Homo sapiens: one gene and its partner. The protein of the gene in region 1 interacts with the protein of each later gene in a pairwise test. Each region holds a gene or a part of one and is shown in the gene's direction. Other genes may lie near its edges. The genes, in order: CAP1 and PLA2G4A.

Region 1 (16,826 bases):
TATCTGTGTATGCTAGATGAGGATTATAATCCATTATGTGACTGTGTAAAGTTGCACAGTTAGTATGTACAGCTTGGGACTCAGGCCTCAGTCTTCTAATTTTATTTGGACTTGTGTAATTTTGACCACCTGTGTTTCTGAAGCTTTTATGATGAATGCTTAAGTAGTTGGGAATCCGGACATTCATTTATGGAGGTTTACGTATAGTTCTTGGTTATTGACAATTAGAAATGGCAAGGAGCAAGATTAGGCAGACATACAGTTCTCTGCTCTGATACTTCTGTGTTTGGGAGAAGCCTTATTTATTTATTTATTTAAATAAAAGAGATGAGATTTTGCTATGTTGCCCAGGCTGGTCTTGAACTTCTGGCCTTAAGCCATCCTCCTGCCTTGGCCTCCCAAAGTGCTGGGATTATAGGTGTGAGCTATCATGCCTGGCCTGAGAAGCCTTATTTTAAACATTTGCTTTCCAAATATGTCTCATCTATCCTGAATGTGATTGAAAAAAAGTTGGCCTCCATGGAGAAAATTGAAAGCAGAAAAATGGAAGATGCTGGCCAGGCGCGGTGGCTCACGCCTGTAATCCCAGCACTTTGGGAGGCCGAGGCAGGTGGATCACCAGGTCAGGAGATTGAGACCATCCTGGCTAACACGGTGAAACCCCGTCTCTAATAAAAATACAAAAAATTGGCCAGGCATGGTGGCTCACGCCTGTAATCCCAGCACTTTGGGAGGCCAAGGCGGGCGGATCACCAGGTCAGGAGATCGAGACCATCCTGGCTAACATGGTGAAACCCCGTCTCTACTAAAAATACAAAAAATTAGCCGGGCGTGGTGGCAGGTGCCTGTAGTCCCAGCTACTCGGGAAGCTGAGGCAGGAGAATTGCTTGAACCCGGGAGGTGGAGGTTGCAGTGATCTGAGATCGTGCCACTGTACAGCCAGCCTGGGTGACAGAGGGAGACTCCATCTCAAAAAAAAGAAAAATGGAAGATGATAATAATGTAACTAAAGACACCATAAAGAGACCTTGAGCCCATAGTGCTGTGCAAACAAGTTGGGGCTGGATACTGTGATTAACCATATAGTCACTTAATTTGTTAAAAGCCATTGTGGAGTAGCAAGAAGAGCTGCAGAGTAGGATTCAGAATATTTGTACTCTAGGCCTAGGTTCTTTACTCACTAGTTGTTTGACCTCTGGCAAGTTTTTTTTTTTGAGATGGAGTTTTGCTCTTGTTGCCCAGGCTGGAGTGTAATGGCGTGAACTCGGCTCACTGCAATCTCCGCCTCCCAGGTTCCAGCAATTCTGCCTTAGCTTCCCAAGTAGCTGGGATTACAGGCATGCACCGCTACTCCAGGCTAATTTTGTATTTTTAGTAAAGACGGGGTTTCTCCATGTTGGTCAGGCTGGTCTCGAACTCCCGACCTCAGGTGACCCACTCACCTCAGCCTCCCAAAGTGCTGTGATTACAGGCATGAGCCACCGTGCCTGGCCATCTGGCAAGCTTTTAACTGCTGTGAATGTCAGTTCAGTTTCTTCATTCTAAAAATAGGGATCAATGTCTGCGTAACATACCTTGCAGAATTATTTTAAGTCTCAAAAGAATCAACAGATTAATAATGTTAAGCATTTACAACTATACAGAATTACTATATTTAATTGATATTATATATTCTAAGAAGAGTACTTTCCTTATGGTACTTAGTTTGAAGATCTCTATATCAGTGTGATTCGTGGCTGAGAAGGCAACATTTATTTGAAAGACAGGAGGGTTTGTAAGGTCCTGCAAAAGCAGATAAGCAAAAAATTAAAACAAAACAAAACAAAACACTTCTCCATGGATTCGATAGAGAAGATAGCCACACTGTGTTGAGGGGAGAGTGAGTAAGAGCCTTTATTTATTTATTTTCTTACTCAAACACCTTTATTAGCCCACTGTTCTTTTTTTTTTTTTTGGAAACATAATCTCACTCTGTTGTCCAAGCTGGAGTGCAGTGGCGCAATCTCAGCTTACTGCAACCTCCACCTCTCAGGTTCAAGCAATTCTCATGCCTCAGCCTCCCAAGTAGCTGGGACTACAGGCGCATACCACCACGCCTGGCTAAGTAGAGACGAGGTTTCACTGTGCTTCCCAGCTGGTCTCGAACTCCTGAGCTCAGGCAATCCACCCGTCTCGGCCTCCCAAAGTGCTAGGATTACAGGCGTGAGCCAATGTACAGTGTTTTTAATGCCTCCTATGTTTATAGTAGTGGAATTACAGTGGCAAGACATGGTCCTTGCCTTAGGGTGGCTAGTTGCCTGTTGACTGTTAGAGGAGATCAGATGCATTCAGGGGATTATGGCCATAAACTCTTAGACTCTGAAGGCTATTAAATAAATTATTTTATTTTTTTATTACTAATGTCTTGAGACAGAATCTTGCTCTGTCACCCAGGCTGGAGTGCAGTGGTACTATCTCGGCTCACTGCAACCTCCACTTCCCAGGTTCAAGCCATTCTTGTGCTTCAGCCACTGTAGTAGCTGAGATCATAGCATGCGCCACCATGCCCAGGTAATTTTTGTATGTTTAGTAGAGATGGGATTTAGTAGAGACGGGGTTTTGCCATGTTGGCCAGGCTGATCTCAAACTCCTGGCCTCAAGTGATTGCCTGTGTTGCCCTCCCAAAGTGCTGGGATTACAGGCGTGAGCCACCATGCCCGGCCAAATAAATGATTTTAAACCAGTGTGTGCAGTGTTGTGACACAGATAAGTGCACAGTGTTGTGGTAGCACATACTAGAAATACTTCCCCAGGAGGTGATAACTTAGCTGAGACTTAAATGACAATAGGAGTTCTAGAGGGGCAGATGGGAAAGGGAAAACATCTAAGCAGAGTGGATAGCATTATAAAGGCTCAGAAGTGAGAGAAAGCATGGCTTTTTCTGGAAAACGCAAGTAGTCCCGGGTTGCTGTAGTGTGCTAAGGAAAGGTGTAGCAAGAGATAAAACAGGAGTGGTAGAAGATTAAGCAGGACTAGATGAGAGAAACCCTTGTTTGGACTTTACCCTGAACGCTCTGGGGTATGTGTCAAATGCAACTCTAATATCATATCTTAAATGCAAATATAATTATAAATATTTCTTTAATACCATTCAGTACTCTGGGAAGTGTTGAGATAGATCACTCTGACTATAATATGGAGAATGGATGAACAAAGTTTATTACTGTAACTAGGGGAGACTAGCCAAGAAGTCATTGCAGTAATCTTGGTGAAGTCTTGATATCCTTTTTTTTTGAGACAGGATCTTGCTTTGTTGCCCAGGCTGGAGTGCAGTGGTACTCATGGCTTACTGAAGCCTCTACCTTCTGGGCCTAAGCCATCCTCCCACCTCAGTCTCCCAGGTAGCTGGGACCACAGCTGTACACCACCATGCTTGGAAAAATTTTAAATTATTTTTGTAGAGACAAGGTCTCCCTATGTTGCCCCGGCTAGTCTTGAACTCCTGACCTCAAGCAACCCTCCTGTCTTGGCCTCCCAAAGTGCTGGGATTAGAGGAGTGAGCCACTGTGCCCAGCCAGTATCCTAACTCTTATCAGTCAGGATGGAGGCAAGAGGCATCTATTCATGAGATACACTAAATAGAGCCTATGGATTTTGATGACTGATAAGATGTTGTGGGGGAGTTTATGGAATCCTTACTATTTTCCAGGACTGTGCCAAGCACTTCTACATGGATTCCTTCATTTATTCTCACTGAAGCCCTTTGGATTTTTGTGCTATTATTGTCTTCATTATAAAGATAAGGAAATTGAGTCTCAGAAAGTTTGATAACTGCTTATAGTCACAAAGCCACTGCATATTGTTATTCAAACCTCCAATCTCTCTGATTTCTCTAAAGAACACTCTTATCCACTATATAATACTGCCCAACAGTTTCCAGTTACTGACTTGATCAATCAGGTGATTGATAGCAGTGCTGGAGCAATGTTAGGGAATATGATTTCTGCTTTTGGACATTTCAGGTTGCCTTTGGGACATCCAGGTAGCGATGTCTAGGTGAAAGCTGGATTTTTTTTTTTTTGGAGACAGGGTCTCACTCTGTCACCCAGGCTGGAGTGCATGGTACAATCACTACTCATTGCATCCTCGACCTCCTGGGCTCAGGTAATCCTCACACCTCAGCCTCCTGGGTAGCTGGGACTACAGGTGTGTACCATCATGCCCGGCTAATTTTTTTATTTTCTGTAGAGATGGAATTTTGCCATGTTGTCCAGGCTGGTCGTGGACTCCTGAGCTCAAACACTTCCTCCCATCTTGGCATTCCAGAGTGCTGGGATTGTAGTTGTGAGCCACAGTACTTGGCCTGAATCTAAAATTTAATCCCAGATGAATGGCCTGAGCTAGATGGATATGCTGCTCTGGTAGTCTTTAGTCTATAGGTGGTTATGGTGGTACCACCTCGCAAATAGGCTGGGTGTTACTACAACAAGGGTAGTCAGAGGCTTTAGGAGTGTACATGACCACCGGAAGAATGTACGTGTGTATAGAGAATAAGAAAAGGTGTGTCTTTCACACAACTGAATCTCATTCTCTACACACACATACAATGTCATACTTAAATTCTGGACATTATTTTCCATAACATCTCAAATCTCATCTTACTCCCACCAAGAGCAAAAAAAACAGTTTCTGTTCTTTTGTATTTGGTTAATGGTAGAATGAGATTAGCTATAAATGGTAGCTGTATTGTCCTTTTTCATTCTGCTTAAGTCAGACAGCGGAACTTTAGCTTGTTTAGCAGTGAAAGCCTATAAATACAAATGAAATATGGAAAAAGGGAGCCAAAGTCCCATGAAGCTCTATTATTAAGCATTTAAGATTGGTAAATGTTCACAAACTCTGGCAGCCTCTAGCAATACATGTACTGTGTCTCCATGTTAACAGTGGTCTCAACCTGAAACATCCATGTATGAAGGAACATGTTTTAATAACAGAACTGAGTGGTATCTGTTCATGGAAGGTAGCTTAGGAGTTTATTGCGTTCCTTGCCTTTTCCCCTGGACTTACAGTGTGGTGGATTGTATATATATGTGAGTCTGTCTCTTGATCAGTATGCATAATGGAACAGGGCAGGAATTCAGATATCAGTTGATAGTGTCATAACATTAGGGAAAGTATGTTGACTGCTTATGGTCTGCTCTATTTGAGAGTAGGACATAGACCTGGAGGCTTCTGCTGCTGCTGCAGGCCAAGGAATGGAAAGGTTTGTTTGGTTCTCATTCTCATTTTTTTTCTTTGCTTCTCTTTTAAACAACACTCTCTGACAAGTGATTGGGCCCACAGAGACCAGAGCCTGTACACAGAGAATGGACAGAGACTATATTGTCTTCCTTACTTTATCTTGTGAGCTGCTTATCTCTTCCACAGGGAGGACAATGTGTTAAATTGAGATAATTCTGGCATGCTGTCATCTTTGGGGGAATCATAATTGCTGTTGTCATTTTAGGCAGCTTCAAGGGAGTTGAGTTCATTCAGCTTCAGTTACCTGAACTGAATTCAGTTGCCTGAATTGACGCTTTTGTGAAATGGAATCTTTCCAAGTCAAAGCTTGGATTGAAATTTCACTGACTGGTTTTTATGAGATCACTTAGGGTCTCAAATACTTTATGTAGAGGTGCATTGATCATATTTTACACTTATGTGTGACTTATGGGCAACTTTTAGCACCCTTATCCCTCTGGAGTTTTGGAATGCTATTTGTGAGGTTTATAACTTCATAAATATTTATTGAACATCTACTACCTGCCAGGTAGTAGTCTAGATGGTAGAGTATACAGTAAGGAACAAGCTATATAAGGTCCTTTCTCTGTTGGAGCTTACTTTCTTTGGGATATTAGACATTGAATTAGGCTATTTCAGATAAGATAGTACTTGTGAAAGATCTATAACAAATTCTTTTGGATGTGTCTAGTGTCCTTCCCTACTGCATGTCCAGATCTTTCTCATCTTCATTTGAAGGCTGGCTCAAATGGCAGCTTCTCCATCATATCCTTATCTGATCCTTCCAGCTGATATATTACTCCCCTCTTTGAAATCTCATGCCTCTCTATCAGCAACTTTCTTATGTCACCTTAACATTTTTTTCTATTTGTTTCATAGTTGTTAGTGCATATGTTAAGTCTCCCCATTAGACTATAAATTACTGAGGGCAGGCCGGGCACAGTGGCTCACGCCTGTAATCCTAGCACTTTGGGAGGCCAAGGCGGGTGGATTACTTGAGGTCAAGAGTTCAAGACCATCCTAGCCAACACAGTGAAACCCTGTCGCTACTAAAACTACAAAAAATTAGCTGGGCATGGTGGCGCACACCTATAACCCTAGCTACTTGGGAGGCAGGAGAATCCCTTGAACCCAACAGGGTGGAGCTTGCAGTGAGCTGAGATCCTGCCACTGCACTCCAGCCTGGGTGACATTGTAAGACTTTGTCTGAAAAAAAAAAAATTATTGAGGGAAGAGTAAACATCCTATTCATCTTGGTTTGGGATATTTCACATGCAGGCAGCAGGATGTTGTAGGAAAAAAACACACTGAACTTAGAACCAGAAGGATCAGATAAGGATATGATGGAGTACTGGCTTCTCTATTCACTGGCCGTGTGACTAGACAAGTCATTTAGCTTCACTGAAACTAAGTTTTCTATCTCTAAGCGTGTAGTAATCATCCTTCTATTCCTGAATAGTTGTCGGGAGGCTCAAACTGAGATAATGTATGTGACTATCCTTTGCAAATTCTAACTTTCTACACACAGTATCATAGTAAATATTGAGTATTTGAATGAGTAAGCATTTACTTTAGTGAACACCTTTTCCTGAGCAGTTCTCTTGCTTAATGAGGTCTTTTGATTTTGTAAATATGCTACTTTTTTATCTGATATTTTTGTATTGTTCCATTTTGCAGATGATATCTAATTTTATTAAATTATTCTGTTCCTGAGAATTGGCATCCTCTTCATCCACCTGGGGATGACCAGGAATTTTCTGTTTTTTTCTCTGTAGGTGCTATTTAATATTTAAATAACAAATGACATTTGATCTGTTTCAGCAGGTGGTCCATTATGGCTGACATGCAAAATCTGGTAGAAAGATTGGAGAGGGCAGTGGGCCGCCTGGAGGCAGTATCTCATACCTCTGACATGCACCGTGGGTATGCAGACAGTCCTTCAAAAGGTAAGCAGTCCACAGCCCAGCAGAATGCTTTCTTTGAGCGTCTTGGCCTGAAAATTTTCTATTATTCTCTCCTTTGGCGCTAACTTCCCAAAACTTAATCTAGAAAGTTTACCTTTTGTAATTTGTATTGCTGTGAACAGATAAGAGAGGAAATGACTTGTACAGGGAGGCCTGTGGTTAAGTTATTTTAACACAAGAACTTCCTGCTTGTGCAATATTTCCTGCTCTTTCTTTAGCAGAATGACTCCAATGTAAGTCAAATGACAAGTGATAATAAAATTCCTCTCTCCAAACAATTGGCAAATTGGACATTTTGCACATGCACCAGTTGGAACATAGAATGTTAGCACTAAAAAAAACCTTGGAGGATCATTTTGTTTATTTTCATTTTATAGATAAAGAAAATTAAGCTCAGAGAGGAAAAGGAATTTAGTCAGGGTCACACAACCAGTTAGTGGTGATACTGGACCTGGAACCCAGGTTTCCTTACTCCTGTTCTGTATCCTGTTGACTGTATTACCTTGCCTCCCCACTTTCATGTAGAAGCACGTTTTAAAGAAGCCTCCTTCTGATGCATGGCTGATTCTTTGTGGTGTGTTTGTCTTTAGCAGGAGCAGCTCCATATGTGCAGGCATTTGACTCGCTGCTTGCTGGTCCTGTGGCAGAGTACTTGAAGATCAGTAAAGAGATTGGGGGAGACGTGCAGAAACATGTAAGGATGTTTTGCCTTTTTCCCCTTCTTTTAAGGACTAACAGCTTTCTTCAGTCAGCCAAGGTCCTCATCCTTGGTTTAAGAGCTCCTTGAGAAGTTCCTCTTGGTTTGGGGCATTACACATGTTCTTTCTCTTTTGCCTGTACTGAGGAGTTCAGTCTAGCCACAGAAACGATTCCTCATTTTTTTCTAGGCCCCTTGCTTTTATCACGTATTTATACAGAAAGCTTGCTTGGTACATAAAATATGGTTCTGTTCATCTTTGTAGTGAAGAATATGCACCAGTTTGATCCCAACATATTACATAATCAAACCTACAGTGGCTTATTTAAAGGAGTCATTATCATGACTTAGCATTTATAAAACTATGCTTGATAGTTATTAGTTATGCTAATGTGGGTTATTTTCACACTTAACCCACAGCAAGAATATGAAGTAGGCAATGACAGGTGCCTTTCCTCCCACCTTCCTTTATGCCTCCTACGTCATCACCACCACCCCCCACCCCCACCCCACACTCACATATACATTCTACCTCTATTTTTGGGACCCAAAAACCTTCCTGCTAGCTCACCGAATTATAAACAGTAACCATGCTTGGGAACTTCTTCACCTAAACCTTTCTCGAAGACTGGTTGCTTGGCTTTTGGAAAATCTATTTTGAGCCTCTCAAATACCATCTGTTGCCAATGGTTTTAGCTCTAGAGAGTGGGACTGGGACTTTAATAAGGGTGTGGAGGCTTGCATTTTTACTTAATACAGTTCTGTAACATTTGAAAAAACTTTAAAACATTTATCATTTGTATTTTAAAAATGCAAATCCAGAAAAAATAGATTGCTTTCTTTGAATTTTTGTATTTTAATAGTGCTTACAGTCTCATGTTTCTTAAATTCTTTTGACTGCGAATGACCCTTAGAAAGAAAGAACATATTCGTAACTGAGATAAAAGTTTCACAAGATGATATTTATACTACTTCTGCTGTACTTTTTTTTTTTTTAACTTTTTATTTGGAAATAACTTGAAGTTGGTGCACTGCACTCATACTTTTGTTCCATTAAGCTCACTAAATTGATTTAATTATTTATTAATGGGTCATGGTATCTGGCATTTGAGAGATAGCTTTAATCTAAAGGAGTAAATACCTTGAGAATTTTCAGCAGAAATTTAGGCCTTTGCCTTTACTCCTGTCTCCAATTTTTGAGAAAAGAAAGGTGTTTTTTTGGTTGCTGTTTGTTTTATTTTGCTGATGTGAAATAGGAAGGATTTTTCAGTGCACGGTATCACAATGCATGTGTAAGATGCTAACATGACTTCATGTAAGCTAGGTGATTATCCAATTAACTTCACTTCCAACTCTGGATATATATCCCTGATGAGTTCCAATAGGAACAGTAGTGTATGTAATTCTGCTCTCAGTCCCTGGAATCTGGAATACATGAGGAGGATAACATGAAGTGCCTGGGTTGCTATCAGAGTACATGGAAGTAGAGGTTTCAGGTTATTCTTATCAAGACTTCTCTAGTTATAATGTGTCATCAATAGCTGATTCTTCTTTCTGGCAGGCGGAGATGGTCCACACAGGTTTGAAGTTGGAGCGAGCTCTGTTGGTTACAGCTTCTCAGTGTCAACAGCCAGCAGAAGTAAGTTCACTACTAGCTGGTTTCATTTTGGTTTGATGCTCAGGACGAGTTGAGAGATTTATGTCAAGCTATTATAACATTTTAAAATAGACCTACTAGGCTTTTGATAATATATGTTCATACCAAGTCCCAGAGGTAGAGCCATACTTCAAGTGCCTTAATGGGAAGGTACTATTGGGTACTTAATGGTCTCTACTGGCTTTTTCTCTGTCATTTTGCATAGGACTGTGGTTATCCCTGGGACTTTGCTTGCCTGCCTCTTTGCTGAGTCCACATTCATCATAGTGTCTCCAAAGCCCTTTAAAGATGATTCTCTTGCTTCACTGTGGATGGGCTTTAGTAGTGCTCCTGTGGAGATCTTAAAACTCCTACAGTATTGCTTCTCTCCTCATCCTTCACTGGTTGGGAGACTCTCTCTTTAATTTTACTCCCACCTCAAAATTTTATGGTGCAAGATGTGAAAAGTTGAATTAGAGAAAATTTAGATTTCTCTTGGAGTCAAAGAATATAGGTTTCCTTCTTTTGCATTTGGTTTTCCTAGTTACAGAGGAATAATAAAGCAAGTTGTCCTAAATGCTGTATTAAAACCCTTGACCCTCAGCATGCCTAGATAATATAAAAATAGTGCAAGATAATGTCAAATATATTAGATTCTGGTTAAGTGTGCTGGCTCATTCCTGTAATCCCAGCACTTTGGGAGGCTGAGGCAGGAGGATCACTTGAGGCCAGGAGTTTGAGACCAGCCTGGGCAACATAGCAAGACCTCGTCTCTATTAAAAATTAAAAAAATAAAATAAATAAAAATAGCCAGGCAAGGTGGTGCATGCGTATAGTCCCAGCTACTTGAGAGGCTGAAATGGGAGGAAGATTTGGGCCTGAAAGTTTGAGGATGCAGTGAGCCATGAACACACCACTGCACTCCAGCCTGGGCGACAGAGCAAGACCTTCTCTCAAAAAACATTGTGTGTGTGTGTGTGTGTGTGTGTATAGATGCCATCTAATTCTAATATGTAGAATTAGATTTTAATTCTTAATCTGTCCTGAATGGTTAAGATCTGAGAATTGAGATGTTCAGGAAATGGAGCTTTGGAGGAAGGGTGCAAACACAAACAAAATTCATCCATTTTGCCAAGGTGCCTACTTGAATGCTAAGCCCCTAATTGTTTTTTATTTTATTTATGTTTAAAAAAAAATTTTTTTTTTGAGACAGGGTGTTGTTTTGTCACCCAGACTGGAGGGTAGTGGTGCAATCACAGCTCACTGAAGCCTTGACCTCCCAGGTGTAATGATCCTCCCACCTCAGCCTCCTGAGTAGCCTTGACTACAGTGTGCACCACCATGCCTGGCTTGCTTATTTACTTACTTATTTATTTATTTATTTCTGAGATGGAGTTTCTCTCTGTCGCCCAGGCTGGAGTGCAGTGGCAGGATCTCGGCTCACTGAAACCTCCACCTCCCAGGCTCAAGTGATTCTCCCACCTCAGCCTCCTGAATAGCTGGGACTACAGGCATGCGCCACCATGCCCAGCTGATTTTTGTATTTTTATAGAGATGGGGTTTCCCCATGTTGCCCAGGCTGATCTTAAACTCCTGGACTCAAGCGATCTGCCCACCTTGGCCTCCCAAAGTGCTGGGATTACAGGCGTGAGCCACCATGCCTGGCCCTAATTCTTTTTATTATTTGTAGAGACAAAGTTGTGCTGTGTTGTTCAGTCTGTCTTGAACTCCTGGTCTCAAGCAGTTCTCCTGCCTTGGCCTCCCAAAGTGCTGGGATTACAGGCGTGGGTCACCATGCCCAGACTAAGCCCCCTAATTGCATTTGATTCATCAGTTCTTTACAGCAGCTACTATATGGCTGGCAATGCATTGGGGGCTTTCATGATGATAAAAGAGCTCGTCTTTGAAGAATTAATGAGAAAGTAAAACATATTCACATGGGTCCATTAATAGTTTGTATTGGTGAGTGATAAAATGCCAAGATTGGTTATGCTGACAACAAATGCTGTAGGAGGCTGGTGTGGCTGGGTTGGAGGGCCCTCATGAAGCATGAGGAAAATTTGGATTCATGGGAAAAAAAGAGAACATCATGAGTAAGGCACAGGAATGATGTCCTGAGTGTATGTCCTCTGAGTGGAACAAAAAAGAGACAGGTGGCTGAAATGGAGGTTCTGTGGTATAGCTGAAGTATGGGTCCTGATCATGAAGAACCATCAGGTGCAGCCTGAGGAGTTGGAACTCTACGAGGAGAGTGAGATGATGAGCAGTATTTTAGCCTTAGGAATCAGGACAGGACTCATGCAGTTTATTTGGGTGCTCACTAGAGTCCATAGAGAATTCTTGCCTTCAGGATCAGAAGGCATAGACACCTTTGTGGAAAGATGTTAACCTGAATCTTTTCTTGTATCTTTTCCTAGAATAAGCTTTCCGATTTGTTGGCACCCATCTCAGAGCAGATCAAAGAAGTGATAACCTTTCGGGAGAAGAACCGAGGCAGCAAGTTGTTTAATCACCTGTCAGCTGTCAGCGAAAGTATCCAGGCCCTGGGCTGGGTGGCTATGGTGAGCAGCGCAGATTCCAGGGCTGGGGGTGGGTATAGATTTTAAGAGGGAAGGCAATATAGTTGGAGAGGTCCTGAGTCACTGACAGCTTGTCTCTCTCTAGGCTCCCAAGCCTGGCCCTTATGTGAAAGAAATGAATGATGCCGCCATGTTTTATACAAACCGAGTCCTCAAAGAGTACAAAGATGTGTAAGTTCAGCCTTTTCTCTCTTTTTTTCTTTTCTGAGACAGTGTCTTGCGTTGTCACCCAGGCTGAAGTACAGTGGCACAATCACAGCTCATTGCAGCCTCAACCTCCCAGCTCAAACAATCCTCCCACCTCAGTCCTCCAAGTAGCTGGGACTTCAGGCACGCTCCACCATGCCTGGCTAATTTTCTAATTTTTTCGTAGAGATGAGGTCTCACTGTTTCCCAGGCTGGTCTCTAATGATTCTCCTGCCTTGGTCTCCCCAAAGTGCTGGGATTACAGGTGTGAGCCACTGTGCCCAGCCAAGTTCAGCTTTTTCTCAAGGGGTAAAGGATAAACCCATTTGGTTACTTGCTGGAGTAGCACTTTGGAGTTACTGAGGGCTGCCCTTAGCCACTGTGCTGGTTTTATCTCAGGGCTGCTTTCTGGAGAGCTTTACAGATATTGTCTCACAGCTGCATTTGCAAGCAGGAAATACTTCTGCTTCCACTTCTGCTTTCTCTCCTTTTTTGGTAGAGGCCCTTTTAGTCTTCTGATCCTTACCCTTCTGGGTTTAGGAAGTTTTGCTGGCAGTAACATGGACTAATGCCCTTTATATAAGATTTTGTTCCTTTGTTGAGAATTTGTTACTGGCCCAATGGCAAAGGGTTCAATAGGACTTAATAGAAATTTTTCATGAAGTCAGTTAAAGTGAGAGTAAGGCTGCCTAGCCAATGCAGGTATTACGTAGGGCAGTCATTGCATGTCTAACCACATACGTCTACCAGTTCTGACTTCTCCATTGCTGGTTTTGAGCTGGAATGATTGCAGGCAAAATTTATTAAGTTGCATATCTACACAAGCCTTTCCTTTCTTCCATCCTTCATCAATCAACAAACATTTATTAACTACTCTTTTTAAGGAAAACTACACCTTCCTGTGAGTGAAATGTGTCCCAGAACAACAGGCACTTCCTTATCCTTCTAGCAACATGGAATTAAGCATGACAGTGTTTTGATATATCCCACCATTATCCCATCACTTTACAGTTGAGGAAACTAGGTCTTAGGCTAAATAACCTTCCCAGTTAATACATAAGAAGAGAGGGGACTTGAACCGTAGGCACAATGCTATTTCTATAATTTAAGGCTGATTGTTTCCCCCTAAGGGAAAGTTTTTAAGTTTGCTTTTGGTCAGGGTGGGCATATTTTGACATAAGGCATTGTCTCATAAGGCAGTTAAGTTTCTTAGTCTTTAGAGTTCCACAGTGATACTTAAGAGCTCTCCTCTCTACCATGGTTTTATGCACAGAATGTCTGCTTTTATCAGTTTTACATATTAGATTGTGTTTAAGGTCTACTTTGAAAAAAGTTTCAATAAGCAGCAAGTGGTCAAAAGAAAAAAAAAAGTTTTGGTACTTAAAACAGTTTGAGAAACATTGCTATGAGAGATAGAGATAGAATCCAGAGTCTCTATCTTAGTGGAGTTTGGTCTGATTAGGGTAATAGACTAGGTTGTATATACATAGAAGCTGGTGATGATAGAAAAGCTGCCATTGAGCGGAGCCTAAGAAACACCACGGGTAGGAGAATGTGAGCCCATAGGAAAGAAGGGTTCTGGAGTCACCACTGTTATGTACCCGGATCACCTGTGACAAGTTCTTCTTTAATCCTCCCAGGGATAAGAAGCATGTAGACTGGGTCAAAGCTTATTTAAGTATATGGACAGAGCTGCAGGCTTACATTAAGGAGTTCCATACCACCGGACTGGCCTGGAGCAAAACGGTTAGTGAATCCTTCCTCCCTCCCTCCCTCCCTCCCACTTTCTCTCTCCAGCATGGGGTCCACAGGTTTCTTAGACTTCAGCACTACCAAAGTCTGTGAGGGAATGCTAGTTTTTTCAGTGGAAGGGAGGAAGAAAAGGAGGAGAAAGAAAGGGTAAAAAGAGTAGAGGAAGCAAGGATCAGAGGAGAAGGAATATTCAGTGGTATTCAATTTCAATAAATATGTTAGGGACAGTGATTGGTGCTGGAGCAGGAGACACACACAAATGAGTTACACTATCCCAGCCTTTAAGGAGCTTAAAAATAAGAATGCAAAACCCCAATACAAATCACCAAGCCAAATGCTATAATAAAGATACAGACTAGAGTATGAGGAAGAGAAGAGTGCTTCTCACTAGAAGAGATTGTACTTTGAAGGTATATACTCTTCTGTGAGACTTGAAAGTAGTATAGGGCAGTGAGAAGTGGGATACTACAAAAGGCACAGCTTAAACAAAATACATGCAGAGTAAATGTAGAGATTGGTCATCTCTGGCTTCAATAAGGGGAAATGATCAGAATTTTAGGAGAAAAGGCTGGAAAGGAAGGTAGGCTGAGACTTTGGGATGAGGTATTTGAGCAAGGGAGTGATAATGATTCAATTTGTCTTTAAAAGAGTCTCAGTGTATAGGTTAGGGATAAGGACTCATGCTCAGATTATGAAAGTGGTCATGGTGTTTGGGGGATAGTAGAAAAACATTTGCAGGAGATAGCACCAAGATAATAGAGATTTGATAAGGTCGAAGAAGTTGGAATCCTCAAAGAAGATTGAATAGTCAGTCTTGGATAGTAACATCTTTCACTGAAATAGGGACAAGGGGATGATTGTACAGGGAGAGGAGCGGCAGGAAATGATGAAATCAGTTTTGAATCTGTTGAATCAGAGGTACTGGTAACACACTAAGGAAGATGTCAAGTAGATTTGTGGAAATAGTTTTTAGAGCTGGAATCAGGTGAGTTCAAAGGCAAAATGTGATGGTCAAGAAATAGAACTGAGAGCTGGATCCTTGGGAAAGGGTGAGAAGGCATAAAGCCAAGTTGGGTATGGGTAGGACACATTAATCATTGCCTCAAAGGCTGTGGTGGGGACCCCATGTGCACTGGCCCATGTAGGGCACTACTGGGAATGGTACAGAGGGGAGCAGAGAGGATGATGATGTTACCTGCACTTATTGTTCCAGGGGCCTGTGGCAAAAGAACTGAGCGGACTGCCATCTGGACCCTCTGCCGGATCATGTCCTCCTCCCCCTCCACCATGCCCCCCTCCTCCCCCAGTCTCTACCATTTCATGCTCATATGAGTCTGCTTCCCGCTCATCACTGTTCGCGCAGATTAATCAGGGGGAGAGCATTACACATGGTGAGTGAGCACTTGGACACGAACAGTAGGTACAACAAGTTGTGTGGGCCAGACCCCACCAACCAGAACCGTCTGTAAACTACAACCCTGGCTTGTGTGGTGGAGACTCGTTTGGTGTGTCCTGTTCCTTTAAGGGACGGCAAAGCTGGCTTAAATGGAAATTGAAAATGATGATCACAGTTGGAGGAAGCCATCTGCCCCATGGGAAAGTGACTTAATATTAGGTAGCATATATAGAGGACCCTCTTGTGCCAAGGCACAGAGCTGGCGGTTTTCCCCAGAGCTTTTTCCGTGGCACCACATGGCCTCTGGGAAGGCATTGTGTTAGGGAGTTAACTTCCTCAGAAGATGCATACTGGTTACATGGAAAATTTGCATGAGAGTGACCTAATGTTGGTATAAAGTAGATACCCTTAACACAGCTGGTGGAAGTCTGAGTTGTCCAGCCACTTCTAGGAATCTATGATCATAGTAGCTAAAAATGGTGTAACAACCTAAATCCAACTGTAAGAGAAATGGCTAACTACCACATGTCCTCTTGATGAAATGTTTTTTATTTTTTTATTTTTTTTGAGACGGAGTTTTGCTCGTTTCCCAGCCTGGAGTGCAATGGCGCGATCTCGGCTCACCGCAACCTCCACCTCCCAGGTTCAAGCAATTCTCCTGCCTCAGCCTCCCGAGTACCTGGGATTACAGCCATGCGTCACCATGCCTGGCTAATTTTTTTTTTTTGTATTTTTAGTAGAGATGGGGTTTCTCCATGTTGGTCAGCCTGGTCTCAAACTCCTGACCTCAGGTGATCTGCCCACCTCGGCCTCCCAAAGTGCTGGGATTACAGGTGTGAGCCACCACGCCCGGCCTCTTGATGAAATGTTGTGCCACCATTACATGTTTTTCTACAGTGAACCATGTAATGTTTAAGAAAAAAAAAATCTAGTATGTAAATTACAACCACAAGGAATGGTGGAGATAAAAAGGCCATTCAGTATTTGTTATACAGTTAACATAGATCTGGCCATGTTCAAAGCGAGGCGTGTGTCAGCCTGCTGTGGGAGATGATGAATTATTTTTCCCTTAAAACATAAAAGAAATATATTTTTACTTTTATTTTTTATTTTATTTTATTTTTTTTGAGATGGGAGTCTCACTTTGTTGCTCAGGCTGGAGTGCAGTGGCGTGATCTTGGCTCACTGCAATCTCTGCCTCCCAGGTTCAAGCAGTTCTCCTGCCTCAGCCTCCTAAATAGCTGGGACTACAGCACCTGCCACCACACCCGGCTAATTTTTTTGTACTTTTAGTAGAGACTAAAAATACACCATGGTAGCCAGGCTGGTTTTGAACTCCTAACTTCAGGTGATCCGC
Region 2 (16,826 bases), about 150 Mb from region 1:
GAAAGTTCAGTGTTTCCTCTGACACCTCTTTTTTTCTTTACCTTCATGGTAGACTAGCTCCTGTCTGATTGACACATTCTTTTCTTAAATGTTTTAATATCTGCAATCAGATAATGAAGTTAACCAAATATGTCCACCATGCTTTATTTACAGAGTGTGCCTTCTTTCTTTGGAGACTGTTGTGTAATGCTCTTTATCTTTACTGATTGTGTTTTGTTTTCTGTATAGGTATATGTCAACCTTGTATTCTCACCCTGATTTTCCAGAGAAAGGGCCAGAGGAGATTAATGAAGAACTAATGAAAAATGTTAGCCACAATCCCCTTTTACTTCTCACACCACAGAAAGTTAAAAGATATGTTGAGTCTTTATGGAAGAAGAAAAGCTCTGGACAACCTGTCACCTTTACTGATATCTTTGGGATGTTAATAGGAGAAACACTAATTCATAATGTAAGTTACAGTTCAATCTACACTGCTTTTATAACAAGTAGACAGAACATATTATAATATTATATTTTAAATAAAAGAAAATGTAATACATTTTATAAAAGTCAGTGGACTCTACTTATTTGTCCAACTATGCGTACTGAGCCCATTCTCCCCACCAGAGATTATAATTCTTCTACCTTTCAAACTAGTGCTTACTAATTCATTTCAATGATGTAAAGATTTTGAATGTGTGAGGAAGTGCTTTTGTATTCCTTTTCTCTGGAAAAAAAAAAAAAAAAAAAAATTCACATTTTAACCCTTAACTGCCCATTCCCTCCAAGAATGGTAACATTTTTAGATGAGGAAGAATGAAGTTTGCCTGAATAGAGTCAAGAAAGGAAGGGGATCGCATAGAACAGACTCGCTTGATGCATGATTGCATTGATGTTTCGTTGAAGATAAAGCAGAGGAGCGCCTGTGACAGGGAGTCCAGGGGCTAAGTTTCTTCCAGGCTCCACAGTTGCTAATTCATTCTCCAGTTCAGATGTAGACATATAATCTAGAGTTATGATTATTTTTTAAATGAAGATAGTTACTTCCATAGAGCTTATTTTTTGTTGTTCATTCAGGACCTAGTAATTTCTAGAAGTAATAAGACTTATTTTTATTATAAAGTTATAAGATTTTGATTGGAAGTACTATTTTGAATAGCATTCTTTCTGTGTCTGTTTATAAATTTAAAGTCATCTTTTTCTTTCTTCTGTGGACAGAGAATGAATACTACTCTGAGCAGTTTGAAGGAAAAAGTTAATACTGCACAATGCCCTTTACCTCTTTTCACCTGTCTTCATGTCAAACCTGACGTTTCAGAGCTGATGTTTGCAGGTATGCTGTTTCCTTTCTCAGAACACTTCCTGGAACCTCTGAATTGCAGTTTCCCATGGTTTTCCTTAGAGGAAGGTCATAAGCAATTTCAGTTGTTTATTTTAATGTATTTTCTGTAACATAAGACTTTGAAGATATAAGAAAATATTAAGTGAGATGATTTCCTGGTTGTAGAGAATATTCCATGAAACTAGTAACTAATGTATTTTCATTTACTATAGTAAAATAAAAATCATGGATACAATCAATCAATACAGTCAATTAATTATCCACTCCTCAGTAACTTTTGACAAAATAATATGCCTAGTGCTTTTAGGTAGTGCAAATTGTTTTACTTGTTGGTTATCTTTTCATTAATTGGGTAATATGATCTACAGTCCTCCCTTGGTACTCATGGGGGATTGGTTCCAGGCCCCCCTGTGGATACCAAATTCAGTGGCTGCTCAAGCCCCACATACAAAATGGCACAGTGTTTGCAGGTAACCTACACACATTCTTATGTATACTTTAAATCATCTCTAGGTTATTTACAATGCCTAATACAGTGTAAATGCTAGGTAAATAGTTGTTATATTGTTAGGGAATAATTACAAGGAACAAAAGTCTGTACATGTTTAGTACAGATCAAACAGTACATGTCAACAACGTTACATTTTCTGGAATTTTTAAAAAATATTTTTGATCTGCAGTTGATAGAATTTGCTGAACTCATGGGTATATAGAGCCAACTGTATGTTTGCCATTCAAAGTGCTGTTGTAATTTTTATAATTCAGCACCTAAAAAGTTCTAGTGTATATTTGTAGTGGTTGATGAACCAATGCCTCATTTTGTTAAAATCTCAGGAGTGAACACTTGTTTCTTCTCAAGCTTTGCTTCTTGGATACTATAAAAGTGCACAACACTACTCGGGAGGCTGGGGCAGGAGAATGGCATGAACTCGGGAGACAGAGGAGCTTCCAGTGAGCCGAGATCATGCCACTGCACTCCAGCCGGGGCCATAGAGCGAGACTCCGTCTCAAAAAAAAAAAAAAAAAAGGGCACAACAGCATACTTTTGGGGGGGCCTCTGTCAGTGTTAGTCTGCAGCACAATAGCATTTCTGACTGTAGCTGGTGGGCTTCATTCTATTTTTAGGAAAATTATCTCAGTGACTTCAGACACCCCATGAGCTTAAAAAACCATCATGAGTGGTGTGTAATTGGCACATATATATCCAGAATCCTTTTGTAATTTTCACTTTTCTCTCAACTGCCTCTCAGACAAAAATTTTGAATAGTTTACAAAAATTAGCACACATGGGATCCATTCATTCAAATGTTTATTAAAATATTGGCTAAAATGTTTGTCATGCTTATGGTTCAGAACGCACTTATCACATTTGCTATTTTATTCCATGTTTCCTACAACCGGGGAGTAGGTATTTTTAGCTCTGTTCAACAGAAGAAAAACGAAAACCTCATAAAGATTAAATAATTTGCACATTGCTGCTTAGAACGTAATTAGCAGTGCTGAAATTGGTTTCAAAAATCCTTTGTTCTTTTTATTTTACCATACTAACTTCTGATGTGTACATAGTGATTACCGTCTATATAGATTGCAGCAGTCTGCCGGGCGCTAAGGATGAATTCCTCTTTCCTCACCACAATATATTGTCCCTACCCTATAAGACCTTATAGTCTGTTTGGAAAATTTACAATAATTATTAAAGAAGTTAAGGCACAAGAGAGTACAGAACTGTTACTATACACTGTCATTTTGACCAAGTTATATAATCTACGTTAGACCCAGTTTTCTCATCTGTTAAGTGAAGATGAGACTTCTCACAATGTTTTGCCAAAAAATGAGACAAAGTATGTAAACAATGGCAGGCCCTAATAATAAGTTTCCAGTACATTTTAACAATTTAGAATGTTCTGTGAAAGCTGTATAAGAAAAGTCAGAGGTCTAGATCTTAAAGATTAATAGGATTTGAATATGAAAGGCACATTTAATTATTGGATTGTGGAAGGGGGCATGTAGCAGGGTCAGGGATAACTCAGGTGTGCTCAATGGCAACAAGGAACCACACATCTTGGGCTATAATGGGGTTCATAGTAGAGAGTTGAGACTTTATTACATAGAAAAGTAAGCGCCATAATGAAATTGCTTCCCCCCAGCCATAGCTATTATCTTGTGGAGCTTTGAAATTTTTGGAATTGTTTGATCTATAACACTTGCATGCTAGTCAGATTTTTGCATGGCCAAATAAATCATCCTTCACCCAGAAAGAATTACATGGTCAAAAGAACACTACATTCTAATTTAAAAGCCTTGTCTTACAATACTTCTAAGCTGAATACCTCAGGCTAGTCATGTAATCTCTGATTCTTATTTTCCTCCTTATTTTAAAAAATATATTAACCCTAAGATTTATCTTCCAGAGCTATTAAGGCAATAATATGAAATATGCATAAGATGAGACTGAAAACTATAAAGAGGCATACAAATATAAAAGTTTGTTTTTATTGTCATGATTGTTCTGGACTTTTCACGGTGGTTATATTTTATTCTGAATTTTTAGTCAATAGCCATTTTCCAAGAAAACTTAACTAAAATAATTAAAGAATAAATAATATTTGGGTGAGTGGATATTCTGGGTTCTTTTAGACTGAAAAAATGCTGTTTTATATTCAGTTAGTAGTCTTTGGACCTGGATGTGTCTTCTTTTGACATCTGCTTCACTGCAGTACTGCTACTGAGATGAGTGGTGCATCATTAACCTTCATTGTTAAGCTTCTGTCATAAGGCGGGTTGAGCTGTGTCTTCCAACAGATTTAGACAAAATCATTAAACATTAATTATATGAATCTTGTACCCAGATAAGACATCTTAAGGTACATGTCTTGAGTGTTCAAGTAGCTTTACTTGAGTTACTGGGAAAAAAAGAATAGAGACACGTCTGTAATTTATTCTTCCAATATATGCTTAGATTGAAAGTGGCTGTGTAGAAGAAAAAGTTGAGATAGTCTCTGAATTATATTTTTAAAAGTCAAATAATCAAATTAGCTTACAGAAGCTTTATTAACAATTTTACTTCAACAATACCGGATAATATTTTCCCTTCCTCTTGGAATAATTTTAAACACACCTTTCATTTAGAAATTTCTTGGAAATTTTCAACAAATAAACATTGGTGTTTAAACTGTTAGAAATTCCTGACTCCTCCACTACATCACATTGCTGAAAGGACTTAAAACGTTCATTTAAAAATTTCCACTGGTGAATAAACTGCATTTATGGATTACAACTTATGGTTATGAACTTAGCATCATGCTAAATTTTTTGACAGACACTTTAGAAGTACAAATATAGTATTTTTCCTCAAGAAAGTTATAATCCTATTGAAAGAGACAAAAATAAAGCATGGAAAAATTCCTATAATATACCTAGACCTGACATAAGTGTGTAGACCTGACATAAGGGTGAGATGTCATAGAGATTTAGTATAGTTGTAAGAAAGGGTGATGAAACTTGGATTTAAGTCGAATGTAGAAGGATCTATCAAGTACGGGTAAAAAGATACCTTTGTGTGGAAACAATATGAGAAAATGCTCAGAAGGGAAGCCAGAGTTATGTTTTGGGCATCACTATTAAAAAAAACAACTAGTCTAGGACTTATGCACACATTGGTGAAGAAAAGGTGTTGTATTTGGAGGCACCAATAGTCCCAAGTTATGGAATGATTTTAATTCCAGACAGAAATATTTTTATTTGATTTTGATGATAATGGAAATAGTTAATGCTTTTGTGCAGGGCAATAAAATTATTTATGTAGTGTTTTTGAAAAAGTCACTTTGGTGACCAATAAAAACAGAATGGAAAGGAATGAAACTGGAAGCAGAGATATCACTGTGCTTTTGTGATAAGGCCCTGGAACTAGGGACATACTGATAAGAAAAGAATAGATGGATATGAGAGGCCTAAAGGTTATCGGTGTGATGCAATGATGGATTTGATAGAGTGATAGCATGGTTTACTGAAATAGGTAAGCTGGCCCGGGAAGAAGGGTGATGAGTTCTTATCTAGGTAAGTATAGTGGGAGGAGATGACAGAATATCTGAGTGTAAGGGCCCCAAAGGAAGTTGAAAGTACATGGAAGCGCAGGAGAGAGGTTGGAGTCAAAAGGTAGAGTCACCAGCAGGAGAGAATTAGTTGAAAACTAACACCGTGAGTTCTTCAGTGAGGGGTGCAGAGCTCATTTTAGCTTTTGAGAATGCCTAAGTTACTATGTGCCCAGGCCATGGCGCTAATCAAGAAGAGATCGCTAGAAAAGCAGGAACCAGGAAGTTGTTATGCCTCAGTTCCCATGATAGGGTTGTGAAATTGAGAGATAGGAAATTACTTGTATGAATACAGGAATTTTCCTAACAGCCTCTGATTCATTGCTAGTTATGTCTCACAAATTCCACGTAAATCGTTGTAAATCACACCACTTTCTGATGAAGAATATATGTACCATTTGGCTTTGACATATAATGAATTACAATGTTATCAAAATTGTGATTTCATCACTTCCTTCATGAAAGGAAGGTGTTGTGACCTACCATTGAACAAACAATAAATATAGATCCACAATTCCTTTTCCAAACCTTTGGTGACATGTGTTTTAGAATTCAAAATGTTTGGATTTTGGAGATATAAAGATACTCATATTGTGTATTACCTAATACCCCATTGGGTTCTTATAATCAGTGATATTTCTCCAATAGGATATATAAATATCCACATTGAGTGGGATAAATGAATTATAAGAGCCCCCACTAACATTCAAGCCTGATTTCTCACTAAATGAATTCAGATTAGATTTTACAAACAAATGAGTAACAAAGAAGCTTATGAATTTTTGAATTGTTTGGATTTTGTATTGTTGGATAAGATATTACAGACATATTATAATTTCAGAAAGAGAAAAGCTAGAAAAAAAAATGAAGTGGGTTAGAGAATTATGAGTTGGGCAGGGGTGGATGATGTTGGGATTTTAAAATGGACCATCAGCAAAGACCCTAAAATAAAGATTAAGTAGGAGCAAGCATTATAACTGCAGAAGGGAATAGCAAGTGTAAGGTGCTGAAGTGGGAATGAACTTGACTTCTTTGAGGAACAGCAAGAAGATCTGTGCCGTGTGGCTGAAGTGAAGTGGGATACGCAAGACAAAATGTGATAGAACATTGTTAGGAGGGATGTGGTCACATCACACAGGGAGTGGGATCTAGGCCAGGACGGAAACTTGTCGGCCCTGTTTTTATTTTCAGTGTAATGGGAAGCTTTCAGATGACACTGGTGTGCTGTGATTTATATTTTTAAAGATTTATTCTGGCTATGGGATATCAAAAAGATAATAAGTGAACAGAGTAGAAGCATTTTAGGAGGTTATTGTGGAGGTCCAGGAGAGAGAATACAGCAATTTGTATCAGTACGATCACAGTGGACAAATGGATAAGTGACCAGGTTCTAAACATACCTCGTGATAGAGCCTACAGCACTTGATTTTTCCTGTGTAAGCTATAAGGGAAAAGAGAACCATCAAGGGTAATCCTGAAGTGAGTAGTGGCATGAATAATATAGTACCATTTACCAACAAGAAGAAGAATGAAGGAGTTGCAAATGTAGAAAATGGGAATCAGAAACCAGGAGTTCTTGCTGAAGACATCAAGATGCAGATGATAATTAGACATAGTCGTAGCCATGGGAATACATGAAACATAAAGTGGCTACTATTTATTGAGCAATTAAAATGTGCTATGTCCTCTTCTAAGCTCCTTACATTTCTTAACTCAGTGGATCTTCAAAACAATCCTACACACTATCTACTTGTGATATGTGATTTTATTCACATTTTATAGATTAGGGACCTAAGACAGAGAGAATAATACCCAAGTCAGTAAGCACAGCTCATAAGCAGCAAAATAGGATTTGATCCCAGACAGTCCAGCTCCAGAGCCCCCGCGCTTAGACAGTATACATCTCTGGCACTATTACCATGTTTTTCTAAGGCATTCAACCTAAAAACTTTGTATTGCAATCTTGTGGAGTTAGAATAGACAGTTAGTGAGCAAAATTGAAGTGAAGGTGAAGAAAAGATAAATGTTAGAAAACATTTTATTTCATTTTAATAAACTGTTTGAATTGCTTAGAAGAGTTTAATTTATTCTGTATGCTCCATGAAATTTATATCTAGTTAGCAGTTTTCAGTTTCCTGTTCTGTAGAATGAAAACTGGCTTCAAAAAGACATCTGAGTTTTTAAATAGAAAAGTGCATCTAATTTCTGCAAATTAGAAGGGATCTTTTTGTATCGTCTTGTCTTATTCACCTCTAAGCGTTTTTCCCCCAACTTCTACACAATGTCATATACATAATGGGCATTTGGCTAATGTTTTCATTTTGATATTTTAAATACATGAATGAGAATAAGCATAACATTATTAAAGTGATCATTAATTGTGCACACCATGCCATAGCATTTTCCTATTAATGGATTGCCTTGTTTTTAAAATACTTTCAGATTGGGTTGAATTTAGTCCATACGAAATTGGCATGGCTAAATATGGTACTTTTATGGCTCCCGACTTATTTGGAAGCAAATTTTTTATGGGAACAGTCGTTAAGAAGTATGAAGAAAACCCCTTGCATTTCTTAATGGGTAAGTGATCAAAATAAAAATATATCATTGACTTGCTTGACTATTTTGAAACCTGGGATATTTTAAGTTATTTTCTGTTTCTGTTTTATTTTAGGTGTCTGGGGCAGTGCCTTTTCCATATTGTTCAACAGAGTTTTGGGCGTTTCTGGTTCACAAAGCAGAGGCTCCACAATGGAGGAAGAATTAGGTATCCTAAAGATATGCTTACATTGATACAAATCTTGCTACATTGATAAAGTTTATTGACATATATAGAGAGAATATTAAATCTTTGTAAATATTTCAACTATTCTAAATTTATTAATAATTTGGTTGAATCAATCTAAATATTTCCTAAAAATAATATGTTACTTCTTAAGTATTATTTTGACACTGAGGTTATAAAACTCATAAAAATCATTGATTTCTAAGAGTAATTTTTAATAGAACACATCTCTATTCCTTTTTCGCATTATACTGCTAAACATACTATTTGTATTAGAAAGTCCTCTTTTTATCAAATAAGAATAGCTTTTTAAAGATTAGATTCACCAACAGCTAAATACAATGTAACACTGAAGCTTATGCTTGTCAGTTTATTTAACCCTTAAATATTAACTCACCAGAATTCTGTTAGCATCTTATATTAATCTATACCCAAAAGAAGGAAAAAAATCAAATCACCTCTAGTACACTTAAACTAATGATTTTCATTAAATCTAACCTATTGGCCTATAATAAATTACGAATATTTACAAAACCTGAGAAAGTAGACAATCTCAACTGGGGACCAGTGGTTTTCATTCATTATAGGAATACCATAGAAACATGTTTTCTTAAATTAATAAATTTGACTTAAAGCAAACAAAAAATTTATATTCAGTTTCTTCCAAAAGCCTTGCCACCTGTATTTTAATCAACATTAATTTTTGGGTTGACTGTTTTGACTGATAGCATAAAGAAATGGTGGCATGCTAAATCTGAATTTGGAGCCATAACAGCAGGGACCTGGGAGAAGTGCCTGATGGACTATCAACACAACTACCTACTATCTCTTCTCTATCTGGGAAGTAGCAAAGATCTATCTGAGAACAAAGAAGTCGACAGAATAACATTGATGACTTTTTAAATAATTAATTTATTTGAAGAATGCTTGCATACAAAAAGCTTCCTGCAGGAATTTTAAACAAGCTGTCCTTGGTTATCCCAGGCAATGTCAGTTGATTTAATTAAGTTTACATGCAAAAGAGAATACAATTGTAACATTAATTGGAACATTAAGTTGGCTTATAAGCAGTATTTCCACTGCTCCTACAATTGATTTTAGTTATTTGATAATTTATTTAATATTTGTATTTAGTGTGGTAAACTCCTGTAGTTCATAATATTTTCAAGAGTGTCATTTGTATTTTTGTTAGTTCTTAATGAATAATGGAAAAGTTATCTTATAATTTCATTGGAGCCAAAGATTTTAAAATAAAAATAAAAACAAACACACAAATAAGGCACCTTGTGTTTGTTTATTTTCTGTCCTCTGATCATCACCCAGTTAATGAGCAAACAAGGTAGGTGGCACCCATGAGCCTGCTGTGACATTTACCACGGGGCACATTCTCCTAAGAGTAACTGCAAGGCAATGTGTATAATGATAAAATGATCTTACTTGATTTCTTTTAATGAACATTATATCCCAGATGAATGTCCTGTTCCCAACTCTTTGTGGAAATAACAAACCCTTTCTCTAAGTTATGTGAAGATTTTAGAAAAAAAAAAAAAAGAAGAAGAAAGAGAAGATCACATATTGAGGCTTGCTTCCTGTGCCCCTCTGTTGAATAATCCAGATAACCCAGGGTTTGCTGTTTTTTCTTCTTAAGGCAGGAAGAGAATAGGACTGAAATAACAGATCTGAATGTGGGTGAGACAGTGGCTAAAAGCCAAGGAAAAGGAGGAGGTTTATACTAGGTAGTTTTGAGAAGGTTCTTTGTTGAGAAGTTTCTTTAGAGGCCGGCAGTCTGGCAGCTTATTGACTCGGACTGTGTGTCAGACTGAGGGGGAATATCGTGTATGTGTGATCCGCCAGTCAGCAGGAAGCATGTTACCTCAGATTAAGTAAGGATTTCCAGAAATGAAACCAGAGAGGTGACCAAGAGGACTCTGAGGACTCCTGGTGACTACTCTATCCTTTGGCTGACTGAAGTCTATCTCCTAAAGGAGTGTTCAGAGATGATTTTTACTTTTTTGTTTTCTTCCTTCTGAAGAAAGACTTTAAGGTAAATTGGGCTACAATCAGGTAACTCTGAATGAAACTACTTACTCTCTAAGGAGTTTTGAATGAATGTGAAAAATTTACACTTTTGAGAGATGGAGTTGTACATTATACTAGGATGGAAAATATGTAAATTCAGAATAGTTAGCTATTCATATCGTGAATTCTTCCTTACAAATAAGACAGTATTTTGGTGAACTATTTTCTTAAACTATCATATGTGACAGAAAGAAAGAAAGGAAAGAAAGAAAGAAGAAAGAAAGAAGAAAAAGAAGGAAAAAGAAAGAAAGAGAAAGAAGGAAGGAAGGAAGGAAAGAAGAAAGAAAGAGAAAGAAAGAAAGAGAAAGAAAGAAAAGAAAGAAAGAAAGAAAAAAGAAAAAGAAAGAAGAAAGAAAGAAAGGCAATAGAAAGAAAGAAAATACTTAAGGAAGGAAAAGAAAATAAATGTAGGACTAGAAACACACCTAATGTATATGGCACCTGGGATAGATCATTTCTTAACATCTCCCACACCTCTGTGTAACAAAATTACTATTGATGATAGCCATGAAATGAAACTAATAATATTAGCTTGTGAACATTTAATCAAATTTTTTATGTATAATCATGCCAGTAAAAACTTAAAAAATAAATGTCAATCCATTGCCTTAAGCATTTATTAACCCTTCCATTACTAACTCTTGCTCATTCACGCACATTTTACTTGAAAAAAGACAACTAGTCTGGGCACTGTGGCTCACACCAGTAATCCCAGTTCTTTGGGAGGCCAAGGAAGGATGATCACTTGAGTCCAGGAGTTTGAGACCAGCCTAGGCAATAGAGTGAGACTTCATTTCTACCAAAAAAAAAAAAAAAAAATTAAAAAAATTAGCCAAGCATGATGGTCCATGCCTATAATCCCAGCTACTCAGGAGGCTAAGGTGGAACGGTTGCTTGAGCCCAGAGGCAGAGGTTGAAATGAGCAGAGATCATGCCACTGCAGGCCAGCCTGGGTAACCATTTAAAAAACATAAAGAAGAAAGATAACTAGTTATTATGCTAGAATTTACTGCTGTCTTTGTTTTAAGGATTTCTGGTTGTTATTTTAGTTTTTATAACTGCTCTCTTAATATGTTCTGCAGGAAGCACAAATTCTTGACACCAAAAGGTGAATTTCAACTGACAATTTTCAATATTATTGAAAGTCAAAAGATAATTTATGTTAGTATCTTTCATTCATTTTAAGAAAACTGTTTGGTAGCTCACCTGTAGATTTTGGTTTTATCCTTTATCTTCATAAACACCACTTAAAAATATCTAATAAAGAAAAAGGCATATTTTTTGGTATAACAAGGAGCTTCCTATAATCAAGTTGTTATTTTTGTCAGAATTATGATAAACATAAAATTATCCTCTTTAAGTCATGAATTAATAAATATAAACTAATTTTTCATGTCCCAGGAAATTTTGTTTCCAGTGAGAAATCTGAGAACATGATTAAATCTAATAAATCTAGAATTATTAAATGGATTTAAATTTATACTAGTAGAGCTAGTAGATCTCACTCTGTGGTTTTGCTCAGATTACTTTTTTATATTAAAATTAATTGTTAATTTTGACACCTGAAATGCTTCAATTTTTTTGTTTTCTTTTCACAGAAAATATTACCACAAAGCATATTGTGAGTAATGATAGCTCGGACAGTGATGATGAATCACACGAACCCAAAGGTGAGTGAGCCGGAAACTTTTCTGGCCCAGATCCATGAGGAAAGGATATGAACACTCTGTCTGATTTTCTCACTCAAGATGCTGATGGTAATCTTCACTTCAGACACGGAAGTGATAAAATTGTAGCTTTCTGTTGAGAGAGAGGATTGCATGTTGCATGTCTAATAAAATAGGCAGCACATATAAATCCCTAATTTATTTTGTTTTAATACCTCAAAAATACTATAAGTTGAACAAATGAACAGATCCAAGATGGTAGAAATGCTGAATTCTATTTTAAGTCTGATTAGAGCACTAGGCTTCTCAGCATGGTTACTGTGATTTGGGAACATTTTTAGATGGCTTTAAAAATTAACATTTTGTCTTTCAGAATTTTGTTATTAAGTAACATGAAAAATTATATTCTCACTCCATTCCTGACCCTTATCCCACTGGCTACACCCTCCCTCTTGAGAAAGGATTAGTGATGAAGTGGGGTAAAAGTATCAAGAACTTGATACGTATATTATTTCATAGTATAAATGAGCCCTTTTACATTTTGACAAGGTAGTTTGCAGTTTGGTGTGGATTATGATAGTCAGTGATGGACTTGGGGCAGAGATAAGGTGAGGATCAGATTTGCAACAAATATGAAAGTCATATTTGTTGTAAATGTTTTGTGGTAAAATAGATTATTTTGACACAGTGTTTTGAGACAGCCATTTATAAAAATGTTCCCAATAGTTAAAAAAAAGCCAACAAACAAAAACAAAAACAACAACAACAAAAAACAAAACAAAGGGAAGGCTTTATAAGAACTGGATATATCTGTCCTATTACAGTTTGAATATGATCATCTAGATTTTAGAAGATATTAAATGCTTTCTGGTCCAAAACTTAATTAATTCCACTAGGCATGGAAGAGCCTGTTTTATCCTTGCTTAATTATTACTAAAATTAAAATTCTTTTTTCATAGCTGGGCTATTACTTCCTCAGAAGATGTGTTTGTGTAAATTAAAGAAAAGCTGCCTTCTCTGGAGAATGTAGCTGCACAGGGCCATGGCTTGGCTAGTGTATGTTGTCTTGCGAACATTAAAAAAGAGGATTCCTTCCCTGGGCAGCCAACGCTTTCATCTGGGCATGAGGCTTGGCTAGATGAGTGCAAGTTGGGTTCAGCCCTGATTTGCCCCCCTATCCTGCTGCGTTATGTAGCCCATGATCTGCCTAATCAAATAATGACCAGCAGCCCTGATCATTAAGCAGGAACCCCAAAAGAACCCTGTCCTGGAAGCAAGCAAGTCTTCATCCTGGCTCCTTCATTTTTAAAATTTAAAATTTATATATATTTTAGTTGTTTAAGTCCTTTTTGTTTTGAATTTCCTTTTAATGAAGGAAGCTAGCTATTGTAAAGGGGATAGCTATCACATGCCTAGCATCTTTAGAATTATTTGTGTATTGATTTAGGGACTACTGAGGAGACAGAATAATGGTTTCTCCATTATTAAGTATTTCTATAGATAGTCAGTACATTTGATAACCCCTACAGTACTAGCTGAGTCTTAAGGCTGAGAAGTTCAAGGACTGTTGAATATGGCTGCTTTGGTTTTAGGATCAGCCTTGCTTACAGCATGATATGTAGTATGTGGTTAAGGTTTTCTTTTCGGCTCTTAGTATTTATTTTTTCTCTTTTACATAGAGTTTTTAGAGCAGTTTTAGGCTCAAAGCAAAACTGAGCACAAAGTACAGAGTTCCCATATGTCCCCTGTCCACCTTCCACCACCCCTGCCTCTCCCACTATAAACATTCCACACCAGAGTGGTACATTTGTTACAAGTGATGAACTTAAATTGACATTATTATCAGTCAAAGTCCATAGTTTACAGTAGGACTCACTGTTAGTGTATATTCTATGGGTTTTGACAAATATGTAATGACATATATTCATCATTATACATGTCACACACACTAGTTTCACTGCTCTAAAAATCCTGTCTCCTGCCCCGTCCCCTCCTCCCCCAACCCCTAACAAGCACTAATCATTTTACTCTCTCCATAGTTTTGCCTTTTCCAGAATGTCATGTAGTCAGAATCAAACAATAATGTAGCCTTTTCAGATCTTTCACTTAGTAGTGTGCATTTAAAGTTCCTCTATGTTTTTTCTTGGCTTCATAGCTTATTTTTTTAGCACTGAATAATATTACATTGTCAGGTTGTGCCACAGTTTAGTTATTCATTCACCTGCTGAGGAAGGTGAACTTGGAAAACTTGAAGTTTGCTTCCAAGTTTTGGACATTATGAATAAAACTGCTAGAAAAATCTATGTACATGTTTTGGTGCAGACACAGATTTTTCAGTTTATTTGGGTAAATACCATGGAGCACAATTGCTGGATCATATGGTAAGAGTATATTTAGTTTTGTAAGAAACTGCCAAATGGTCTTCCAAAGTGGCTGTACCATTTTGCATTCCACTACCAGCCATGAATGAGAGTTCTTGTTGCTCCACATCTTTTAAACATTTGGTATTACCTGTGCTTTGGATATTGGTCATTCTAATAGGTATGTAGTAGTATCTTTTTATTGTTTTAATTTGCATTTCTCAAATGACATTTAACTTGAAGCATCTTCTCATATGCTTATCTGCTATCTGTATATCGTTTTGATGAGGTATCAGTTCAGGCCTTTGGCCCATTTTTGGATTGGGGTTATTTTCTTATTATTGAATTTAAAGTGTTCTTTGTATGTTTTATATTACATGTTTTAAATCAAATATGTCTGTTGCAAATAATTTCTTTCAATCTGTGGGTTATCCTTTTATTCTCTTGAGGCTCTTTCATGTTTAGTCATATGATTTTGAGCAAAGTTTTAGGCATTTTCAGCTTTAGTTTCTTCAGACCTATCCTGGAACCATTTACCTTCTCTCACAGAATTGTTGCAATCATTAATTTAGCAAATGCATACAAAAGGGCTCTAAGTTGTAAAGGGCGATGCAAATAGAAATGTACTATTACTGTTATGATTAATAAGCAATAAGTATCATTTATATGTTGACTGTTGGGTTTGTCCCACAAGTGATGCCATTATCAAAGGTATCCTGGTATGGAAGTGAGGGCTTATTGAATAAGAAGAAGAAAAGTAAGAAGCGACAGCCCCAAAATCTTTGGAAATAATTGCATATCCTATTTATATGCTGTGTAACTAGAGATAGAAATCGTTCACTTTAAAGCCTGAATTGTTCTAGTAAAAGACATATTTTGTCCTGTTTGGCATTAGAAAAGTGTAAGAGTAGAAAGTAGTGTATTTGTTTTTGGTGACTATATAGTCATCTGGACTGGTTACTGAATGAAAGATCTCTTCATTTACTCAGCTCAGTTAAACAAATACCTGTGAAGATAAGGATTATAAATCATGCTACTATAAAGACACATGCACATGTATGTTTATGGTGGCGCTATTCATAATAGCAAAGACTTGGAACCAACCCAAATGTCCATTGTGGTAGACAGGATTAAGAAAATGTGGCAAATATATACCATGGAATACTATATAGCCATAAAAAAGGATGGGTTCATGTCCTTTGCAGGAACATGCATGAAGCTGGAAACCATCATTCTCAGCAAACTATCACAAAGACAGAAAACCAAACACCACATATTCTCACTCATAGGTGGGAATTAAACAATAGAACACTTGGACACCGGGTGGGGAACATCACACACCAGGGCCTGTCAGGGTGTGGGGGGCTGGGGGAGGGATAGCATTAGGAGAAATACCTAATATAAATGATGAGTTGATGGGTGCAGCAAACCAACATGACACATGTATAGCTATGTATCAAACCTGCACATTGTGCACATGTACCCTATAATTTTAAGTGTAATAAAAATATATATTTATTATGGTTTTATGTATGTTTAGTTTACATTTATTGGAAATTATGAAGCTGACTATAGAATCTCTTTTTTCTCTTTATTTCAACACACACACACACAATCACGCACACATACACACACAGTTTTATAAATGTGTGACTATTTATATACAGGGTTCCTAGAAATCAGAAAAAAACGGGGTTTAGGCAGGTGAAGTTATACATTACCATAAATTATTCTTTGATTTTGATTATGAATAAATAAGATTGATGATTATGATGCTTCTGCTGCTGCTGCTACAACTGTTTCTGCTGCTAGCTAGTGTTTATTAAGAATTTAATACGAGCCAGGCATTTTTCTAAGAACATTACATAGATGCACAAACACAGTTAATTCTCACAACTTTAGGAGGTTTATCAGTGAGGAAATGGAGGAAGAGAAGGGGAAAGTAACTAGAAAATAGTGGAGAGAGGGTTGAGACCCAAGGATTCTGATTCTGGAGGCAGTGCTATAAATGACCATACAATATAATTTCCCAGGAGTAATGGTGTATGCATAGGTGGTAAGGAAAAAGTCATTTAAAACTGCTTCTTTGGGGTGATTGCTGAATTTTAAAATGTTTAGGCATTTGTTTAAATTAAAGGCTTTTAAATCCCCAAACTTTATAAGCAAGGATGAAATGACAGGTCATAAGATCAATAGGTCATAAGGGTGTTTATTTAGTAGCAAATATATGTTGAATCCTTTAGCTCTCTCTCCTCATTTTGCAGAAATCCTGAATGTTTGTTAAACAGGGTAAGATTTCTTAAGGTAACTTAAGAAATGTAGAGGATAGAATTAACCACTGGATTTTCTGTGTGTAAGTTATATGTGTGCATGCAAGTGCGTGCACTTGAAGCCAGAGAAAAGGAAGAAATCAATTCAGGAAAGAAGGGAAGGGGGAACATGAAAGAAATTTACCTGGAAATCTGAGCATAGATCAAGTGGCACTGTCGAGAATATACCCCTTACACGCACTGTAGGTAA

Evidence for each region.
Region 2: the proteins of CAP1 (region 1) and PLA2G4A interact in a two-hybrid assay, tested with the Homo sapiens proteins (one study listed by BioGRID and IntAct).

Annotation. Positions count from the first base shown.
Region 1 is NC_000001.11:40,052,254-40,069,079, forward strand, and holds part of CAP1 (adenylyl cyclase-associated protein 1), read left to right. Parts: intron 1-7,080; exon of another isoform or gene 7,081-7,083; 5' UTR 7,084-7,093; coding exon 7,094-7,205; intron 7,206-7,813; coding exon 7,814-7,917; intron 7,918-9,481; coding exon 9,482-9,559; intron 9,560-11,973; coding exon 11,974-12,117; intron 12,118-12,220; coding exon 12,221-12,306; intron 12,307-13,961; coding exon 13,962-14,067; intron 14,068-15,286; coding exon 15,287-15,464; intron 15,465-16,826. UniProt on the Homo sapiens protein: Directly regulates filament dynamics and has been implicated in a number of complex developmental and morphological processes, including mRNA localization and the establishment of cell polarity.
Region 2 is NC_000001.11:186,938,780-186,955,605, forward strand, and holds part of PLA2G4A (cytosolic phospholipase A2), read left to right. Parts: intron 1-228; coding exon 229-451; intron 452-1,200; coding exon 1,201-1,315; intron 1,316-7,857; coding exon 7,858-7,995; intron 7,996-8,089; coding exon 8,090-8,182; intron 8,183-11,877; coding exon 11,878-11,949; intron 11,950-16,826. UniProt on the Homo sapiens protein: Has primarily calcium-dependent phospholipase and lysophospholipase activities, with a major role in membrane lipid remodeling and biosynthesis of lipid mediators of the inflammatory response.